Linked DNA regions of Homo sapiens. The protein of the gene in region 2 interacts with the protein of the main gene of each other region in a biochemical or structural test. Each region holds a gene or a part of one and is shown on either strand. Other genes may lie near its edges.

Region 1 (3,749 bases), on a different chromosome or scaffold from region 2:
TTTTTTTTTTTTTTTTTTTTGAGACAAAGTCTTGCTCTATCACCCAGGCTGGAGTGCAGTGGCGCAATCTCGGCTCACTGCAACCTCCACTTCCTGGCTTCAAGGGATTCTCCTGCCTCAGCCTCCCGAGTAGCTGGGATTACACCCCCGGTTAATGTTTTGATTTTTAGTAGAGACGGGGTTTCGCCACGTTGGCTAGGCTGGTCTTAAACTCCTGACCTAAAGCGATCCACCCACCTCGGCCTCCCAAAGTGCTGGGATTACAGGCGTGAGCTACTGAGCCAGGCCCCTAGTGCTAATATGCTAAATGTGTGTTAAAGAACAACTTGGCGAGGTGGCTCTCGCCAAGCCTGCAATCCTAGCACTTTGGGAAGCCGAGGCGGGCCTATCACCTGAGCTCGGGAGTTCGAAACCACCCTGTCCAACATGGAGAAACCCCGTCTCTACTAAAAATACAAAATTAGCCGGGCATGGTGGTGCATGCCCGTAATCCCAGCTACTGGGGAGGCTGAGGCAGGAGAATCGCTTGAACCCGGGAGGCGGAGGTTGCGGTGAGCCGAGATGGTGCCACTGCTCCAGCCTGGGCAACAAGAGTGAAACTCCGTCTCAAAAACAAACAAAAACAAACAAACAAACAACACCACCACCACCTCATAATTACAAGATTAAGTACCTTTGAACATTTGTTTCTGAACCTACCACACGCAACTGTCACTTTGCAGGTGCTTAATAATTGTGAGCGAACATTCAACAAACCTCATTTCATAAACTTCCCTACTGAAATATAGTGGTCATAGGAGACCAGCAGTTTAGCTCATGGCTTCTGGTCCTTGCTTTGTATTGGAATACTGCTTCTATCTACTGACTCGTTTACCCTGGGCTTCAGTTCCTTCTTTGGGCTCCAGTTCTCTCACCTTTTAAGTAAAGGATTATTGTGAGGACTAAACGAGATATAAAACGTGTAAAGGTTTAGCACTGTGCTTAGCAGATAACGGAAATAAATGATCTTTATTATAATGTTTACGTTCCCTAAGAGTCAGTGGCTACGTCATGCAGGAGACACTAGTGTAGAACAAGCGGGCGGTGGTAACTAGACAGACCTGATTTGGCAGTCTGTCAAACCTCCACCACCCAGTATCAACCAATACGAGATAACTAACCTCGCCTCATTCCAAATCTCCCTTTTCTGACTCCCTTTCAAAATGAACAAAACTGCATAAAATGCAGGTCTATGTGGCCGGGCAAAAACAGACTCAGTCATATCCCTTAGAGAGTTATTCCGGCGCCCACCCCACCTCGCGGATAGATCCAGCCGGAGTTAAAGGAGGGCACCTCCGGGTGGGCGCGGTGGCTCACGCCTGTAATCCCAGTACTTTGAAACGCTGAGGAGGGTGGACCGCTTTGAGCCGGGGAGGTCAGACCAGCCTGGGCAACACAGCGAAACCCAGTCTCGCTATGTTTCGAATACAAAAATTCGCTAGGCATGGTGGCGGGCACCTGTCGTCCTGGCTAGTTGGGAGGCTGTGGCGGGAGGATCGCTTGGGCCCCGGAGGTCGAGGCTGCAGTGAGCCAAGATCGCCCCACTGCACTCCCGCCTGGACGACAGAGCGAGACTCTGTCAAAAAAAAAAAAAAAAAAAAAAAAGGCCGGGCTTCGTGGCTGACGCCTGTAATCCCAACACTTTGGGAGCCCGAGGCGGGTGGATCACCTGAGGTCGGGAGTTCGAGACCGGCCTGGCCAACATGGTGAAACCCTGTCTCTACTAAAAATACAAAAATTAGCTGGGCATGGTGGCGGACGCCTGTAATCCCAGCTACTCGGGAGGCTGAGGAGGATCGCTTGAACCTGGGAGGCGGAGGCTGCAGTGAGCCGAGATTTTGCGCCACTGCACTCCAGCCTGGGCAACAGAGTGAGACTGTATCCAAAAAAAGAAAAAAAAAAAAAAAAAAAGGAGGGGACCTCATAGCCGTGCAAGGTGGAGTGAGGAAATGCGGATGTCCTCACCACTCGCCTTTAAAATCGCGCGTTGTCATTGCTGCCTCGCGTAAAGGTTCCCCCGGCGCTCTTCACCCACAGCGCCCCGGGCGTACAATCTCGCCAGCCCGGAGCCCACCGCACGCATCCTCCTCGCCCGGCGCGCAGCGGACAGCCTCCTACGTCACGCCAGCGCCGCGCGGCAAGGAAGGCCCCCTTCTCCGCCTCCGCCTCCTCCCGACGCCGGCGCCGCTTTCTGGAAGGTTCGTGAAGGCAGTGAGGGCTTACCGTTATTACACTGCGGCCGGCCAGAATCCGGGTCCATCCGTCCTTCCCGAGCCAACCCAGACACAGCGGAGTTTGCCATGCCCGAGAATGTGGCACCCCGGAGCGGGGCGACTGCCGGGGCTGCCGGCGGCCGCGGGAAAGGCGCCTATCAGGACCGCGACAAGCCAGCCCAGATCCGCTTCAGCAACATTTCCGCCGCCAAAGGTATCACTCTCATGGCCTGACCCGCGGCGCCGCGGGGTTGTGCTCTGCGCTCTCATCGTGGGCTTGAGCGGGTTTGGCTCATTTCCCATTTCTTCGGGTGATCCTCTCTTGTCCTCCCTATAGAAGCAGCCCAGTGGAGGGATCCTTATTTCTGTTTTTCTGCCGATGATCGCCAACCCGGAGTATGGAGGCCTTTGGACTTGCCCCATTTTGCATCTTAATCTCCCTTAGTTTTTCATCCTGCACTGTGCATCATTCATATTGGAGCCGAAAGCAGTTCAAAATGCCGAGGATTGCATGCAGTCTTCACTAGGGATCTGACGCTTGAGGGCTGTCGCTTATTGCTTATTGGAACTGGTAGAATGCACAGTATCTTTCAGCTTTGTTATTCTTATTTAAAGAACTATTAAATAAACTTCACTTGGCACAACTGTTGAGACGAATTGGGTGAACTCTCCGAGTCTAAATTGGGGCGGGGCCCATTGTACTGGGATGGATGTGGGAACCGACTTACGTGTCGTGTTTGAAATAGTTGCGGAAAAGTTACGTTGATGTCGTCTCCGCATGTGCAGTGAAACATAGGCAAATCAAGAAACAATTATTTGTTTTTTTTGTGGAAGTGTGTGGCACACGTTGGAAATCAGGAAGACCAGAGTTTCATTCTCTGCTTCCGTTACTTCATGTCTTAGTGACCTGTAACCTCTGTGCCAAAGATTCACTTATAAAATTGGAGGAAAATGTTTGCTTTTTAGAGTTAAGATTAAGAGAAATCGAGTTGAAATAGAAAAATCTGGAAGGAAAAGTCAGGACAGAGGTTTAGAGATCTTGCCCGAGTGTATATTGAGTATAGTAGTTCTTTTGGGTTGGAGAATAGTAGTATGTTTACAGAAGAGGTGAGATTAGAAAGCTAGGTTGGGGCAGATGTTAAAGGCCTGGTGTCCTGGAAAGTATTTGGCTTAATCTCCCCCAGCTATGGGATCATTTCTTTTTAGCCATCGTGTAGGCTTGCTGTGAGGATTCAGTGAGAAAGCATATAAAGACCCACGTATATAAAGTACACCTTACATGTGTTTGCAGTCATCAGCCCAAGTAACTGGGAATGTGATGGCGCTAAGATAGGTAACGCTGGATGTAAGAAAAAGTAATAGTTTCTAACTTGTCCTAATGAGTTGGAAAGGTCAGAATGGCCAGATTTAGGAGTCATTTGTAAGTTTAGGAGATAATACACCTGGAAACGAAGGTTTGTAGGATAATTGTCTAGGGACCATAGTTGAAGCTTACAT
Region 2 (3,749 bases):
AAGGGGGTGGGGGGCCCCATCTCTTAAACAAAAGGGGGTGGGGGGCCCCATCTCTTAAACAAAAGGGGGTGGGAGGTAGTCACTAATATATTTTTTAAAACACTGAAAAATAGATTCAGAGGTCATGAAGAGAAGGGGTCTCATGCTTGCACACCTGATGACAAAAACTATCACAAAAACCTGCAAAAGCCACAATCTTTTTTTTTTTTTTGAGATGGAGTCTTGCTCTGTTGCCCAGGCTGGAGCACAGTGGCACGACCTTGGCTCACTCCAACCTCCGCTTTCTGGGTTCAAGCGATTCTCCTGCCTCACACTCTCGAGTAGTTGGGATTACAGGTGCATGCCACCACACCCGGTTAATTTTTGTATTTTTAGTAGGGACAGGGTTTCGTCATGTTGGCCAGGCTGGTCTCGAACTCCTGACCTCAGGTGATCCACTCGCCTTGGCCTCCCAAAGTGTTGGAATTATGGGCCTCAGCCACCGCACCTGGCCAAAAGCCACAATCTTACACAAAAAATACTTCCGCAAAAACATCTGCCCAGCAACTTCCTGTCCAGTTTCCGACTGGTGTCACCTTGTTATTGATCTTCGTAGCCAAGGATAACGGTTTAAAAACAATTATGTAATTCTCATTTTTTTTTAAATTTTAAAAACCTTTGCCTTCCTTTACCTCCTTGAATACGCACGTAGTTTACTAAGTCATGAGTATTTTCACACTTTATTCCCAAATAAATATATAAGAATCATAGAATGATAGAATTGAAAAGGATAAAATCACACAGTTGTTTCTAACTCCCACCCCTTAGAATGCGGCAAATGAAAAAAATTTTTTTTTTTGAGACAGGGTCTCTGTCTCACAGGCTGGAGTGTAGGGATCTCCGCTCCCTACAGCCTCAACCTCCCCAGCTCAAGCAATCCTCCCATGTCAGCCTCCCGAGTAGCTGGGACTACAGGCCTGCTGCCACCATGCCCAGCTAATTTTTTGTACTTTTTGTAGAGACGGGGTTTCGCTATCTTGCCCAGGCTGGTCTCTAACCTCAGGTTCAGCCTGATCCTCACCTCCAGGCTCAGGTGATCCGACCCCCTAGGCCTCCCAAGGTGCTGCGATGACAGGCATGAGCCACCGCGCCCGCCTATAATCAATTTTCAATATTCTAAAAAAGCCTACCAGAAATTGTATATTTTCTGGTGGTATTAAATGCTAGGTTTCCTTGTTTTGTGCTAGAATTATATCAGATCCACAATAAACCTAGGTTCCGACTGAGCTGGGTCTGATTGAGCAAAATCTGTTTTCCCATTATTGTTATGTTCAATTTGGCAAACAGCTTTTCAAAATATAGGAGTGAAGTCGTGGTCGAACTAATAAAATTGGTAACACTTGCTACAATGTTTGCAATTCGCAGAAAACTTCACTGACTTCATCTTAACTTATTCCTCACAAAGCTGTGGAATCACCATCAGTAGAGCAGGAGTCGTTGGCTCAATGCAGTGCTGTCTGCAACCGCTCGGAGCTTCTAGGTTCTTTCCGTGGGTCTCCAGCTTATGAGCACCTACATTCCGCGATTCGGAAGCACCTGCCTACCCCTCAGAAGAGAGAGACAGCTCCTTCTTCCCGTTCCGGAATGTGGTGCGTTCGCACGCATGCGTGACACGGCTACTCCGCGCTTGCGCCGATATTCTCCGCTTGGGGCGGATACCCTGGGTGACCCGTGAGCGTCCGCGCCCGGCGCGCGCCTGCGCAGTCGCTTTTCGAGAGTTTCCGCCCGCTACGTTCCCGTCTTTCAAACCACCCCACCACCTATACCATTCATTCCAGTCTCCTCAATTCTTTCACTGTATTAAGACGGCCTGCCCTCTGGCACGTTTTCTGGAACGAAAGCGGCTTGGGACAGACAGACTCCCTTCGCCAGGGAGCCCCGACCCCGAGGGCGCGCCCTGAGCGTCTGAGCGCAGCCCCGCTGCGTCCCCAGTTGTATCCCCCGCCACGCCCGCCTCTTCCGCCGCTCGCGCGCGCGCGCACGGCCGGCCACGGCGCGCCGGGGTTGGCTGCTACAGGGACCGCGGTGGCGGCGGCGGCCTCGACAGCGGTAGTGCCTTCTACTCCGCTTTTTTAGTTTCCTCCGCCCCCTCCCGTGGGACGCTGTTGTGTGGCTGCCTTAAAAAAAAACGCAACTTTATTGTTCCTCAGCCCCACCTCCGGCTCGGCGGGCGTCCTCAGGATGCACTGAGGCTGAGGGGAGGGGAGGCGGCGGAGGGTCGAGGTCGCGGTCCCTCTCCTCCGAGCGCCCGGCTGGAGGGGAGGGAGTCACGATGTCTGGTAGCCGCCAGGCCGGGTCGGGCTCCGCTGGGACAAGCCCCGGGTCCTCGGCGGCCTCCTCGGTGACTTCCGCCTCCTCGTCTTTATCCTCTTCCCCGTCGCCGCCTTCCGTGGCGGTTTCGGCGGCAGCGCTGGTGTCCGGCGGGGTGGCCCAGGCCGCCGGCTCGGGCGGCCTCGGGGGCCCGGTGCGGCCTGTGTTGGTGGCGCCCGCCGTATCGGGTAGCGGCGGCGGGGCGGTGTCCACGGGCCTGTCCCGGCACAGCTGCGCGGCCAGGCCCAGCGCCGGCGTAGGAGGCAGCAGCTCCAGCCTAGGCAGCGGCAGCAGGAAGCGACCTCTCCTCGCCCCCCTCTGCAACGGGCTCATCAACTCCTACGAGGACAAAAGCAACGACTTCGTATGGTGGGTTTGAAGAGCACTCCCTCCTTGTCCCTAAATTATGAGTTTCTGCCGCTTAGGCTTGGGGGCGGGGGGTCTGGTGTGGGGGTGGCTTGTTGGAGAGCTTGGGATACTGGTGCTGTGGTGGTGTCTGCAGAGGGAATCGAGCGTTTGCAGGCATTCGAGCTCCTGGTTGGTGGGGTGAAGGAATGTTGGAGTAGCGAGGCAGGGTGGGGATAATAAAGAGGTAGGTAAGTGTTGCTGAGGAGGAAGTGAAGGGAGTTTAACGAATGACGAGGGAAGAGGTGGAAGGTCAAATAAATGGTTTTGGATAACAAAGTTGGCAGAGAGGTTGAGTCTTAAAATTTTTGCCTCTCTGATGAATTGAACACTCAGTCAATCAGGAGTCCTTGTTGAGATGAATGAAATTTGCAAATGGAGAGGACTAAGCTTCCTCGGATGCAGAGGGGTGGAGTTGGTCAAAATTTATTTGAAGTATGGTAGATGATGCTGTAAACATAAGCATGGATGTCTTATAAAGACATGCTTTTTATAATAATGTAAGTACCTATCGTATGTATGTGTAAATATCTTCTTCCATTTCAAAGGATGGGCCACTTAGGAATCGGCTGTTGAGACGACTGTAGTCAAAGTCTGTTAACAGATTTTTCACTTCTCCACCAAGTGTCTTGAAAAGAGAGAACCACGTTTGTTAAATAACATCCCTGTGTCAGATGTAACTGTACTATACTGGATAACAGAGTATACTGGAACTTCTGACTTGAGAAATGCTAGGTATAGACATTTTGTCGTCATAGTTGGCATCTTGAATGATACAGAGTAACATTTAGTCATGACATTTGGGATAGAGAGGTTAGTCATATGAAGTGAAAGGTGGTGTTGATTGTCTTGCTTGAGAGTGTTTTGGAATTTTTATTGGATTTTAGATATTGGTAGGATTATGAGAAGTAATTGCTGTTAGCTAGCTGCTTAAGAAGTGGTAGTGTTTCGTACTTTCCTTTTTGAGGAAATTGTTGATCAAATATTAGGCATGT

Evidence for each region.
Region 1: of the proteins of COP1 (region 2) and CCT4, one has a biochemical effect on the other in vitro, tested with the Homo sapiens proteins (one study listed by BioGRID).

Annotation. Positions count from the first base shown.
Region 1 is NC_000002.12:61,887,098-61,890,846, reverse strand, and holds the start of CCT4 (T-complex protein 1 subunit delta), read left to right. Parts: upstream 1-2,190; 5' UTR 2,191-2,339; coding exon 2,340-2,466; intron 2,467-3,749. UniProt on the Homo sapiens protein: Component of the chaperonin-containing T-complex (TRiC), a molecular chaperone complex that assists the folding of actin, tubulin and other proteins upon ATP hydrolysis.
Region 2 is NC_000001.11:176,205,541-176,209,289, reverse strand, and holds the start of COP1 (E3 ubiquitin-protein ligase COP1), read left to right. Parts: upstream 1-2,003; 5' UTR 2,004-2,311; coding exon 2,312-2,718; intron 2,719-3,749. UniProt on the Homo sapiens protein: E3 ubiquitin-protein ligase that mediates ubiquitination and subsequent proteasomal degradation of target proteins.